2 separate regions of the Homo sapiens genome follow, and region 1 is linked to region 2. The links come from fine-mapping of genetic effects on gene expression. Tissue or cell type: whole blood. Region 2 holds a variant in brackets; the other region holds the start of a gene. All regions are shown on one strand. Distances are from middle to middle.

Region 1 (2,606 bases), 57 kb before region 2:
GATGGTGCCACTGCACCCCAAGTTGGGTGACAGAGCAAGAGTCTGCTAAAAAAAAAATTATTTAAAAAATGGCCTTGGGTACTTTTTTTTGAGCTAGTTGTTCTGCAAGGTGTAGCTCTCTTGCACCTATTCAGGTCCTGAGCCCAGTGGCATGGCAAACACTCTCTGTGTTCCAGAACCAGGAGCACCCAGATTTCCTAGCCAATTAAGAGCTCTCAGCTTTGGGTCTGTCTGATGAGCTGACTTGAGACAAAGATCTTCTGTTTCTAGGAGGACATGGGTTCTAGGTCTCTGTGTATAAGTTGGATGTTATGTTTGCTTTGAGTGTGTTTGATGTGGTCCTGCAGTGTGTGTGCTGTGATTTATTTGTAAGAATTTTTGGACTAATAGTCTTCCCAGCCAGGTGTGGTGGTTCACACCTATAATCCTAGCACTTTAGGAGGCTAAGGGGGGCTAATTGAGCTCAGGAGTTTGAGACCAGCCTGGGCAACATGGTGAAACCCTGTCTCTGCAAAAAATACAAAAATTAGCCGGGTGTGGTGGTGCACCTGTAGTTCCAGCTACTCAGGAGGCTGAGGCAGGAGGACTGCTTGAACCTGGGAGGTCGAGGCTGCAGTAAGCCGAGATCGTGCCAGTGCACTCCGGCCTGGTTGATAAAGTGAGGCCCTGTCAAAAAAAAAAATCTGTTTCCACCATTAGACTGTAATCTCTATGAGGGCAGGGACCCTGTCATTTCTTTGCTCACCAGTTTTATCCCTAATGCTTGGCTCATAGTTAGAGCTCAGTATATATTTATTGAAATAATAATTGTGTACTATCTGTGTCTATGTGTATTTTAGTAGCTACAATTTGTTTGTGAGGCTGAGGTGACAGACAGCTGGTGTTCTCCGAAAATGAGAATCGTCCGAATGATGTATATGATATATCTATGTCTACGTGTTAGTGTTCCGGTTGTGTTTTATGCACGTAATCTGGGAATTTGTGGAGGCACTTCAGAAAATATCAAACACCCACAGTATATCAGATCCTGAGTTACGCCCGGGGCAAAAACGACTTCTTCTGCCTGTCCTGCTAACTTTGGGGAGGATCTGGAGGTGAGATTTTTAAACAGGGTAGAAATTATTTATTTTTATTTTGTATATTAAGAAAAAAAATTACTTTTTGGAGGCCTTCCGGCAAAAACCAGAAAGCCTGCTAGGCAAATTCTAAAAAAGCTGTAACACTAGGGTAGAAATTATTGATGCCAAGTTTACACAAAAGTGGCGAGGGCGATGCTAGGGCAGGGGGCGGAGCCCCGCTCCAGAAGCTACGCCCCGGGGCGCCATTATTTTTTCATTCCGGAACCTTTTATCCCCCTCCCGACCATGTTTTCCTCCGGTCTCTTTTGGGCAACGAGCACTTCCGGAATCTCTCGGCGTGTGAGCTTGGTTGTCCTACCAAAGCCAGCGTTTCGGCTCGCGTGCGCCGGCCTAGTTTGCTCGCGTCCTCACGCGCTTTGGGTTTCCCGGTCTCATGGCCGGCCTGACCTTATTTGTGGGCCGCCTCCCGCCCTCGGCCCGCAGTGAGCAGCTGGAGGAACTGTTCAGTCAGGTGGGGCCGGTGAAGCAGTGCTTCGTGGTGACTGAAAAAGGTAGGGGCGGGGCGGTCGAGGATAGGGCTGGGGTTTCCTGCGATCGAGGGCACCTTCCCAAACTTCAGGGAGCCGTATCATTCTTTACCCTCCCCGAAGAGAAGGGACAGGGAACTGAGTTTCTTTTCCAAACTGATTCTGCTTTAGATGCGTTCATAGGAGTCAGTTTATGAAGGGCAAAGCATTCCCTTACGTTTCTATAGCGCTTTCTGTTGATTATGCGCGCTAAAAATGAAAATAGTTAACTAGAGCATCAGTAAGACTTATTGAGAGTCACCTGATTGGCAGGTACAGTGATCAGTTTGATACAGGTTATCTCATTTAATTTTCTCAGCAATCTTACCGGATGGAGAGTCTTAATGTCATTTTACAGACAGGAATCCGGGATTTAGGGGAATTTAGTAACTTTAAGTTTGTACGGCTGTTAAGTAGTGGACCCCCGATTTGATCCTCAGACCTGGACATCTTAGCCAGGATGCTATCCACTTGTTCATTCATTTATTCAGCAAATACTTAATACCTACTGTGTGCCAGGAAGTGTTGTAGGTCCTGGGGATGCAGCAGTGCACAACACCAAACCAAAAAAATCTTTGATTTTATGTCTTCAAGGTGGGGAAGAGAGCCAATAAACGAGCCAATAAACAAGCCAACCGTGAAAATGATGTCAAATGCTAAGGAGAAAAATAAGCCAGGGAAAGGGGTTAGGAAGTCTATGTGCATGTGTATAGTGGGGAGAGGGGGTGAAGAGTGGCAATATAGATAGGGTGGCCAGAGAAGGACGGACTGAGGTGAGAGAGTGAACACATGCCTCTCCGGAGGAAGAACAATTCAGGAAGAGAAAACAGCAAGCTCAAAGGTACTGAAACAGAGGTGTTTTTGGTATATTGGAGGAGTAGTAAGGAGGACAGGGTGACTGGATTGAAGTGAGTAAAGGGAAGAGAATTAGGAGATGAGATCTAGAGTAGCAGATCATGTA
Region 2 (2,760 bases):
TTTATTGTATATTTAATATCTGATAAGGCAAAATTCCTCCTTATTCATCTTCACATTTTTTTTCTCAGCTATTCTTGCCTATGTATTTCTTCTGAGTAAACTTTAGAAGAACTGTGGCATGCTTAACAACAACAAAGCAGCAAATCTCCTTGGACTTTTAATTGGATTGTGTTCAACCTACAGGTCAACTCTGCAGCACATGCAGCCTTTCCATTTGGGAACATGGCATGATTTCCCATTGAATTAATTATTTCATGGGTTTCTAAAAAAGTCTACAAAGTTATAAGAGATAGTTTCCATTTCTAACACTGGTGCAGTAGATTTGAGGTGTTTTTGTTATTGTTGCTATCTCTGCTTCCCCATCCACCCACCCCCATTATATCTTCTAATTGGTTATTGCTAGTTGATGAGGAAGCTATTGAATTTTGCATCCAGCCACTTTATTAAATTTGCCTGTTCTAATAGCTTTTCAATTTATTCTTGTGGGCTCTCTGGAGCTTTTTGCATAAACCAATTCAAATGAATAATTAACTCTCCAGCTGAATCAGTGACCTTCCCTAAATCAGGCCTCTTGTGAATTTAGGGAATTTGGCTGAAGGAGAATGCCGTGTAAATGCGGTGTGCAAAGGGGCCTTGGAAAATCCTGGTAGCCTCAAGAATGCTCATATTCTTTAATTCATTATTTCACTCAAGCGATGAATCATTTCACTCAAAATCTTTCACTAAAAAAAGGGATCAGAGCCAGGTGCAGTGGTGCACGCCTGTAATTCCAGCTACTCAGGAGGCTTAGGCAGGAGGATTGCTTGAGTCTAGGAGCTCAAGACCAGCCTAGCAAGACCTAGTGAGACATAGTCTCTAAAAATATGAGAAAAAAAAATGATCAGAACTGTGAATGAAAGAATTTAGGTATCAGGCCATGTATTAACGTTTATAATAATGAAAATTGGAAACAATCGGATGATTAACATTAGCGGATTTCGGCTGGGTGCATGGCTCACATCTGTATTCCCAGCACTTTGGGAGGCCAAAGTGGGAGGATCACTTGAGGTCAGGAGTTTGAGACCAGCCTGGCCAACATGGTGAAAC[C/T]CTGTCTCTACTAAAAATACAAAAATAAGCTGGGTGTGGCAGTGGGAACCTGTAACCCCAGCTACTTGGAAGGCTGAGGCAGGAGAATTGCTTGAACCCAGGAGGCGGAGGCTGCAGTGAGCCGAGATGACACCACTGCACTCCAGCCTGGGCAACAAAGTGAGACTCTGTCTCAAAAAACAAACAAACAAAAAAACCAACCAAACAAAAAAAAAACCATTAGCAGATTGTTTGAGTAAATGTTCACGTGGTTTTCACCTCAGCCTCCCGATCCCCTTACTCTGCTGACTCCATCACAGGCCCAGATGTCTCCCTCAGACTCCAGCCTCCAGCCTCCCAAACCCTGCCCACTGTGGAGGCTCTGACTGTTGCAGAGGCTGTCCAACCACTACACTCCCAGTCAGAGCTCAGCCTCTTGGTGGAGGTCAGGTTCCTCAACCTTGGGCAGGTTCTTGGCAAATGCTGTGAGGTGCATTTAAGTGCAGGAGATGACTGGGGAGGACTCGGGAGAAGCATCCGAAGGGAGTGAGGAAAGCAGACCAGGCAGAGGGAGAACTTGAACTTCGACACACGGAGCCATCAGCTGGTCCCACAGCTCTAGAGCTGAGATGATCCTTCAGAATTGCTCCAGAGAGACTCTGGGAGCTGGGCTCTGGTATGCCCGCACCCACCAGTCACTGGATGGCGACTCTCCTTGGAGAGGGGATGTGCCTTTAGGGGAGGACAGTTCCTGGAGAGGGACCCAGGTATGAGCAGCCAATACGCCCTCAGGGAACCAAATGCCTCCATTCTGAAGGGGCACCTGGGTGGCACCTCACAGCATTCACTGCACCCACTGTGGTGGGTTAAAATGGCCACACGTTCTTTGCTACTCCTTCCATTCAGAGTTGGAGGCTGTTTCTCCTTTTCTTAAATATGGACTGGATCAGTGACTTCTTGTACCCAATAGAACGTGGCAGAGTGACTTTGTGTCATTTCTGAGATTGGGACTTGGAAGATATAGAGCATCTGCCTTTGATTCTTAGAATACACCCTCTGGGAGGCCACCCCATTGAAGAAGTTCAGCTATCCTAAGACCACCATGCTGTGAGGAAGCCCAAGCTAGCCACTTGGAGAGAGAGGGGCCATGTGGAGGAGCACCAAGGTGCTGAGCATGTGAGGGACACATGGACCTTCCAGACCAGCCATTGGCTGGGCACAGTCAAGAGAATGGCCCCAGGTAAAGTTGTGTGGAGCAAAACTGCCCTGCTGAGCCCTGACCATTTCTTGGCCCACACAATCATGAGAAATAATGAATTGTTATTTAAGGCCACATTTTAGGGAGGTTTTTAATGCAGGAATACAGGGAAATGAAACACTTTCTGGCTCACTCTTTTTCCTACATCATCTGTCCCAGTTTGTGGCACCATGATCCACAATCATCCACACTAGACACTTCGGTTGTAGGAGACTTCTCCGCTCTCACCTCTATGCCATGTCACTGGCCAAGCTCTGCCGATTCTTGGGGAGGGTGTAAAATGTTACTCCTAAATAATTCCTGAGACCGCCCCACCTCGACCTGCCTGTTGCCAGCACATTTGCCCAGATTCTCAATCTTCTTGCCCTGGACAGGTGCCATGGTTTCCACACCAGCCATCTCAAACTCCAGCCTTGGCCAGAGTCACCTCCCTAACA

The links. PIP is the estimated chance that this variant, and not a neighbour inherited with it, causes the effect.
Region 1: RBM28 starts here. The variant in region 2 is fine-mapped to the expression of RBM28 in whole blood (TOPMed, PIP above 0.99).

The regions. Positions count from the first base shown.
Region 1 is chr7:128,342,700-128,345,305 of GRCh38, reverse strand. It overlaps RBM28 (RNA binding motif protein 28), which reads left to right and starts at 1,398. Exons shown (of 19, transcript NM_018077.3): 1 at 1,398-1,630. The coding sequence starts at 1,513. It also overlaps the pseudogene RNU7-27P. RefSeq lists an enhancer at 1,258-1,457.
Region 2 is chr7:128,285,557-128,288,316 of GRCh38, reverse strand. No RefSeq gene overlaps it. Among named protein-coding and RNA genes, the nearest start is that of LEP, 46 kb to the right of the region's middle. The variant C/T (reference allele first, on the strand shown) is at 1,087.